2 linked regions of the Homo sapiens genome follow. The protein of the gene in region 2 interacts with the protein of the main gene of each other region in a pairwise test. Each region holds a gene or a part of one and is shown on either strand. Other genes may lie near its edges.

Region 1 (3,819 bases), on a different chromosome or scaffold from region 2:
AATAATCAATAGAGTAAAAAGATGACCTACAGAATGGGATAAAATATTTGCAAACTATGCCTCTGACAAAAGACTAATATCGAGATCTGCAAGGTACTCAAACAACTCAACAGGTAAACAAACAAACAAACAAACCTATTAAAAGGTGGGCAAAGGATATGAACACGCATTTTACAAAAGAAGACATACAAGCAGCCAACAAACATGGAAAAATGCTCAATATCACTAATCATCAGAAAAATGCAAATTAAAACCACAATGAAATATGATTTTATATCAGTCAGGAGGGCTTTTATTAAAAAGTTAGAAAATAACAGATGTTGGCATGGATGTGGGAGAAAACAGGTACACTTATACACTGTTAATGGGAATGTAAATTAGTACAACCTTTATGAAAAACCATATGAAGATTTCTCAAAGAACTAATAATCAAAAAAATTTGACCCAGCAATCCCACTAATAGGTATGTACCTAAAGGAAAATAAATCATTATATAAAAAGGACACCTGCACTTGTATGTCTATCACAGCACTGTTCACAATAGCAAAGTCATGGAATCAATCTAAGTGTCCATCAATGGTTAATTGGATAAAGAAAATAGGTATATAGACACCATGGAATACTATGCAGCCATAAGAAAGAATAAAATCATTATCTTTGCAGCAACATGGATGGAGGTGGAGATTATTATCCTATGTGAAATAACTCAGAAAATCAAATATCCCATGTTCTCACTTATAAGTGGGAGCTACACAATGGATACACATGGACATACAGATGGAAATAATAGACACCGAGGACTCCAAAAGGGGAGAAGTTAAAAGGGAATTGAGGGTTGAAAAATTACCTACTGGTCACTGTTTGGTTGATGGGTACATTAGAAATCCAAACCCACCATTATGCAATACATCCACGGAAAAAACCCACAAATGCACCCCCAGATCTAAATTATTTTTTTAAGAAAAAGAAAAATAAATATGTATGTAAATATTCCACTGATTTGTTATTTAGATTAAAAGCAATAAATCTTTAATATCCTGTGTTGGTCATATGAAGTTATTCAATAACAAGCTTTCTACTTAACTTACATCCCAGTCAATATTTGCAAAAAACAGATGTCTTTTGATTTCTTCAACTCCTTCTGATCCTATAAAAAAAAGAAATGATATTTTATTTTTATGATTTTTTTTAGTCTTGCTCCCTGGCTTCCAGACTGCTATCTGTAAACAGGAATACACATATTTCATACATTCCTTGAAAAGAAAAATACATGATTTCTTATCTGGCATTTTATTAGCTGGTCCTTTCATTTTACTGTGATAAAAAATAACTAACATTCATATTGAACTACAATAAAGTGTCTCCCAAATCAAATCAAATAGTATTAAACATAATACTTAAACTTAAATACATATTTTTTCATTCCTAATTTATCTTATGACCTCATATTTATATGCCAAATTGAAAGGTACAAAGGAATAAAGTGACACTGAAATTTTCACACAAGGGCATAAATAATAGGATCGCATCTGGATACAGGGAAAGGCTACCAGAAAGGGGTCAAAAAAGTAGTTACAGAAACATAATATTTACTTTGAAGAATATTGGGGGGGGGCAAAATATCTATCTTCAAATATATAAAAGATTACCTGTACAAGGGAGAATCTGTTTATTATTTCAAAAGAAGTAACCCATAATATATACATAATAATAGGTTGAACAGAAGCTTTCATTAACTAGACTACTTCAGTTTTAAATCATGGACATAACAGAGTTTACTTTGTCTGAAATGCACACACAAAATGAAAAATTCTACGTATAGAAGTAATGTGCTCAAATCAAACAAGAAAACATAAAGATTTAATTATCCTCCCAAAACATGCAGTTACTTCTATAAAAGCTAAGAAAATAAGCAATACCCAATCTATTTGCTGGATTCCTTTTGAATAACATCCTTAGAAGACTTTGTGCTTCAGCACTAAGAAATTGAGGCATTCCAAGTTTTGCTCTGAAACAGAGGATTTTAGAAAGTTTCACTTAAATTTAGCCACATTTTTGATTTGAAAAATCTCAAAAAGAACTTTTAAAAGTGCTTTTACAAGGGTACAGTCCTGTATATGGTAGAAGGGAACAAGACAGTGAGAAAAAGGTACTCTTGTATTATTTTAAAACCGCAATAATTTTTTCAAAACTGAAAGCAAGAGATTTTTTTCCCAAAAGAAAAACATACTGTTTACACTTACTTTAATATCATATTCATGGTCTCATTTCTGTCTTTACCTTGAAATGGCAGAGTACCAGTAAGCATTTCAAACTAAAACAAACAAACAAAACACACCACACAATTAGAACACCTTAGAATATATAATAAGATTCTCTAGAAAAAAACTGAGACTTCTATATAATCATCAAATTGTAAGATCTACATGATAGTAGATCAAAATGGGACCAGAAAACTAGGTCACTTAAAGAAATATACTTCTGGTATCCCACTCTCTCTCTCTATATATATAGCTCAACTGATGGTGACCTGTAGCAGATGAAACCAACCAATTCTTCCTCAGTTCTAATTCGGCTATGTTCTCAAAGCCAAAGCAATTTGAAAATACACACAATGCATTTTCTGTTAAAACAAATATACTCTTTTGAAGAGAATGTTTAATAATAAAGGAAAAGGAAAAATAAGCAGAAAAGCATTTCAAATTCATACATGCCCAAGAAAGATTTAACCATTCTCATTCCCTCCACTGCCCCCAAAACAGGAGCCAAAAAAGAAGTAGAAGCAGCAGAACACACCACCACCACCACCCCCTGCCACACACACACATGCCAATAGCTTTAAAAAAGAAACATACACCTTAGTTGTACACAGAAGAAGGAAAACATTTTCTCAAAGAGAACTGACTGCAATGTGACTAACTAGAACATTAAATAATGGTATAAAAAAAGACTACCTCTAAAAATCATTACGGTACATTAAAGAGAAGTTTTTGTATCACCAGTATTTAAATCTCAAACTTAGATTCAATAATGGCTTTGGCCTTAGTCTTCTACTCATTTATCTGAACTCACAATCTAAGTGAGCTTATACATTCAAGTCTCTTCTGTATCTTAATGTCTCCCAAAATCTGCTGTTCAAGGCTTAATCTCTCTCAAACTCCAGCTTTCCTTCCCAAATCTTAAGTAATGGTACGCCACCAAAGACTGGAGGAGTAGAGGTGAGAACTTCAGGGAGAGAATGAAGGAAGGATCGTATATAGGACTCACATCTTCCCTCAAAGAAACTACACGTTGGGTAGTTAATATATACGTATTAAGGTCTCCAAATGATTCTGATTCTCTCTCCACTACCCCTCCTAGTTTATCACCACCCAGTGGTGAGTCATTAACCTACAGTAACCTATGCTACATGTTAAAAATTATTTTTTCCCACTTCCAAAACCAGCTGTCCTCTTCAGCTATCTCTTCTATTAACTTACCATTCTTTGAACCCCCTAAAGCTCACAAATTTTATAGGCATTTTTATCTTTGACAATTCATTTCTTTTTGATCTGTGTCATCTAATTTGCTACCAAGGTTAACAACTGCTTACTTTGAAATCTCTATAATCTTACAATTGTCTTTAAAGATCTCTTTTGTCTTCCTATTTCTAGTTTCTTCCATTACAATCCACTTACAAGGCTAATCCTCCTAAAATACAATTTTCTCTAATTTCCAGCCTGTTTAAGAATCTAAAAGTTTCCTCCTACCCAGAGAATCATGTATAAATGCTTATAGGTTTATAGCTTCACTTCCTCCACCTTTGCCCTCTTTCTCCAC
Region 2 (3,819 bases):
AGGCTACAGGAGAAACAGAATTCAGGGTTCCCTAAGTTTTGGGTCCCAAAGTAAACAAAATGGCCTTGTGTATAAATGATACTTTTTACCATTATCAGCTGAGGATCTTTTAAAAATAAACCAATCAACTCTCTCTTAGCCCACCTCATTCCTGAGAACAAAAGGCCTGATTCTGATGGGAAGAACCACAACCCCCAGGGGACAATTTCCTTAGAGATCTGCCACTGTCCGGCAGGCCTTGCTCTCTCCAGCCTCTTCCCCGCAGCCTTGGGCCACCCCGGCACTGCAGTCCTGCTTTGGATCGCTGGGACAATGCGCTATTTGTTAAGATTCTGTCTGCGCTCTTCAAAACACTCTCTCATGAAAAGGATCATACAATGAGCAAAGAGCAGCCAGGGCAGGGTGGGGCAGGATGAAGAGAAAGAATGAACAAAACACCAGTAACACTCAGCAAGCACTTACTGAGCACCTACTGTGTGCAGGCCCCAGCTAACCCACTGCTGAGCTGCCCGGCTGGCTTCGCACAGCCAGCCCCTTCTCCTCTCCCCATGCTGGGTTAATGTTTGCTTAGTAGACAAGGTGCTTTGATCTCTGCCTGGAGTTTCAGTTACTGTAAAGAACACAGTGCCAAGGAGGGCTGGGGACAAGGCTCCCAGACTCTGCCAGTCCAGCTGCTGCAGGATAAGCCTATGCCGACTGCAAATACACTGAGACAGGAGTCGAGCCTGGGGCCATCCTAAAAACATGACTTCATGTGTTGATTTTCACTGTTGTCAGTGGATTCTCACTGGAAGCGCCCCAAGAACAGAGCACTAATCTGCCATTTTAGGTGACGGCAAGAGGACAGAGACTGGGTGATACATTGATCAGAGGTCCTGCTGTGGGCCCCAGATGCCAGTGCAGCCCAAGAGCAGGAGACGAGGTGCTTCTCTTTGCCCAGCACCTTCCTTTGGTCTCCTGACTCCTCAAGCAAAGGTGAAACCCAGATATGGCTGGAATTCAAGTCTCCTCTAACTTCCTCCTTCTTCCCAGCCCTGGAATAGGTGAAAGTGCCAAGGCTGAGGTTGCAGAAGCTGGTGGAGAGTGGAATCAGCTGGGGGGAGCTGGTCCTATCTCACAAGCAGCAACAACAAAAGCAAGGAGGGCCTTGGCAGGCGCTAGGCACATAAACAAGCAGGGTTAACTTCTTCCCTGGGCTGGAGAGAACCTATCTGTGCTTGTGACAGAGAGACAAAGAGTGCCCTTTGGCATTTGCCAGGAAAGCCTTTGGAAAAACAGGGTGTGACCCTGTTGCCACAGCAACCCAGCCACACTCTGGGGCTCACATGGTGTACAGTGTAAGAGGAGGGGCCGGGCGCGGTGGCTCACACCTGTAATCCCAGCACTTTGGGAGGCCGAGGCGGGCGGATCACAAGGTCAGGAGATCGAGATCATCCTGGCTAAAACAGTGAAACCCCATCCCTACTAAAAATACAAAAATTTAGCCAAGTGTGGTGGTGGGCGCCTGTAGTCCCAGCTACTCGGGAGGCTGAGGCAGGAGAATGGTGTGAACCCAGGAGGCGGAGCTTACAGTGAGCCGAGATTGCACCACTGCACTCCAGCCCCTCCAGCCTGGGTGACAAAGCCAGACCCCGTCTCCAAAAAAAAAAAAAAAAAAAGAGGAGGGGAGCCCCTCCTCAGTCCAGGGCTTGAAACAAGATAATTCCTAGGAAGTAACTGGCAAATAAAGGAACACATTCGGGAAAACTAGATAGAAGTGTACAACACAGAGTTTGGAAGCAATCTTTCAGTGGTCCTCTCCCTTCTGAGTCCTGGAATGAATCTAATGTGGAAGACTTGAACCCCACATTTCTGTTTCTTTTCTTTTTTTTTTTTTTAATTGAGATGGAGTCTCGCTATGTCGCCCAGACTGGAGTGCAATGGTGTTATCTCGGCTCACTGCAACCTCCACCTGCCAGGTTCAAGCAGTTCTCTTGCCTCAGCCTCCCGGGTAGCTTGGACTATAGGCAAGTACCACCATGCCTGGCTAATTTTTTTTTTTTTTTTGGATTTTTAGTAGAAATGGGGTTTCACCACGCTGGCCAGGCTGCTTTTGAACTCCCAACCTCGTGATCTGCCCGCCTCAGCCTCCCCAAGTGCTGGGATGACAGGCATGAGCCACTGCGACCAGCTGAGCCCCACATTTCTTGTAAGCAGACAGAGCCTCAAGCCAGTAAAGCGATGTGTCCACAGTCTCTTGGAAGCAGCGCTGGGTCTGTGGCTGCTGCCTGGGTCTGATGGGTGTGTTCTCAGAGGCAGCCGCACTTAGGACTTGAGAAGCCAGCTGTCAGCGTGACTTGCCCTGGTGCGTGCCCAAGTCAGAAAACACCCAGAGTACCCACAGCTGCCAGGGAGGGATCTGTGCAGGAACAGCTAGTTGGACGGGCTTATGGGATGGCAGGGAGTGAGCGAGCTGGGGGGCCCCAGGGGACGGTGGAGTATCTCCAGCTCCTGAGTGACAGAGAGAACCCACGTGCACTGCCACACCAGCACCACTGCTCCAGGCTCAGCCGTGGGCATCTGCGAGGCCCTGGAGGGCACAGACAGGGTGTGCATGCTCGGCTCTGTCAAGGGGCTGCAGTGCTGCAGATGCCTGTGGTTTGGCTTCTCTGCTCTCCTGCTTGTTCTCTAAAAGCTGGGGCTGTCTACATGCATGGACACACTTCCCATACCTGGTAAGCAACCTGAGTCCTGACACCAGAGTGGACAAAAGCTTAGGTAGAGGGGCTGACAGGCACTGCATCATGAATGGAAGCCACTGTCCTTCAACTAATTACGTCTTCAGTAAGAGGAACTAAACTAGCTACTCGTCAATGAGGAATGGTGAGTAATCAAAACGATGCCGCTTAAAGATCCATTTGTGTCCTCATGGGTGAATCAGTAAACAAACTGTGGTGTATCCCTACAGTGAAATATTACTTGGCTACAAAAAGAAACTCTGGACATGCCCAACTACATGGATGAGTCTTGCAAGCACCGTGCTGAGTGAAAGAAGCCAGACAAAAACACTAGTTCCCTTTCTATCCCTGGTTCTTAACTAGGGGTGATTCTGCCCCAAGGGGACATTTGGCAATGTCTGGAGACATTGATCACTGTCACATCTGGGGAAGGGAGAGTGCCTCTGGCACGTAGTGGGTAGAGACCAAGGACACTGCTAAACACCCTGCAAAGCACAGGACAGCCCCACAACAAAGACTCATCCAGCCCTAAGTGTCAGTAGGGCCAGGGTGGGGAGATCCTGATTTATAGGAAATTCTAAAGAAAGGCAAAGCTATAGTGAGGAGAGTGTAGATCACAGCTTGCCTGAGGCTGAGGGAGGGAATCACCTGTAACACGGTCGGGGCACAAGGGAACATTTCGGAGTGATGGGTGCGTTCTGTATCACAATTGTGGTGGGGCTAACACAACTATACACATTTGTCAAAATTCATAAAATGGCACACGTAAAATTGGCAAGTCTTACTCTATGTAAATTATACCTCAATAAAGCTATTTCCAAAAAGTGGCACAGGGAGAAAAAGTGACAAGTTGGCTCTGGAAGCAACTGGGGGCTGAGATGGCTGATGCCCACACACATTCCACTGCCTGCCCAGCACTACTAGCAAGAGCAAGGGCATCTCTGCGTTGGCACGTGACAGGCTGCTCTCTGATCCCCAGCCGTGTAGTTTCTCACAGTAAACAGCAGGGTCGGCTCGGGTGATGGCGGGGATAAGAGGCCAAGGCTCCCGTCCACGCCCGACCCGTGGATCGCCCCCTTGGGCCGGCCATCGGCTTCCCAGC

Evidence for each region.
Region 1: the proteins of SAP30BP (region 2) and RPS6KA6 interact in a two-hybrid assay, tested with the Homo sapiens proteins (one large-scale study listed by BioGRID and IntAct).

Annotation. Positions count from the first base shown.
Region 1 is NC_000023.11:84,115,141-84,118,959, forward strand, and holds part of RPS6KA6 (ribosomal protein S6 kinase alpha-6), read right to left. Parts: intron 2,315-3,819; coding exon 2,244-2,314; intron 2,009-2,243; coding exon 1,920-2,008; intron 1,148-1,919; coding exon 1,089-1,147; intron 1-1,088. UniProt on the Homo sapiens protein: Constitutively active serine/threonine-protein kinase that exhibits growth-factor-independent kinase activity and that may participate in p53/TP53-dependent cell growth arrest signaling and play an inhibitory role during embryogenesis.
Region 2 is NC_000017.11:75,694,606-75,698,424, reverse strand, and holds part of SAP30BP (SAP30-binding protein), read right to left. Parts: intron 1-3,819. UniProt on the Homo sapiens protein: Plays a role in transcriptional repression by promoting histone deacetylase activity, leading to deacetylation of histone H3.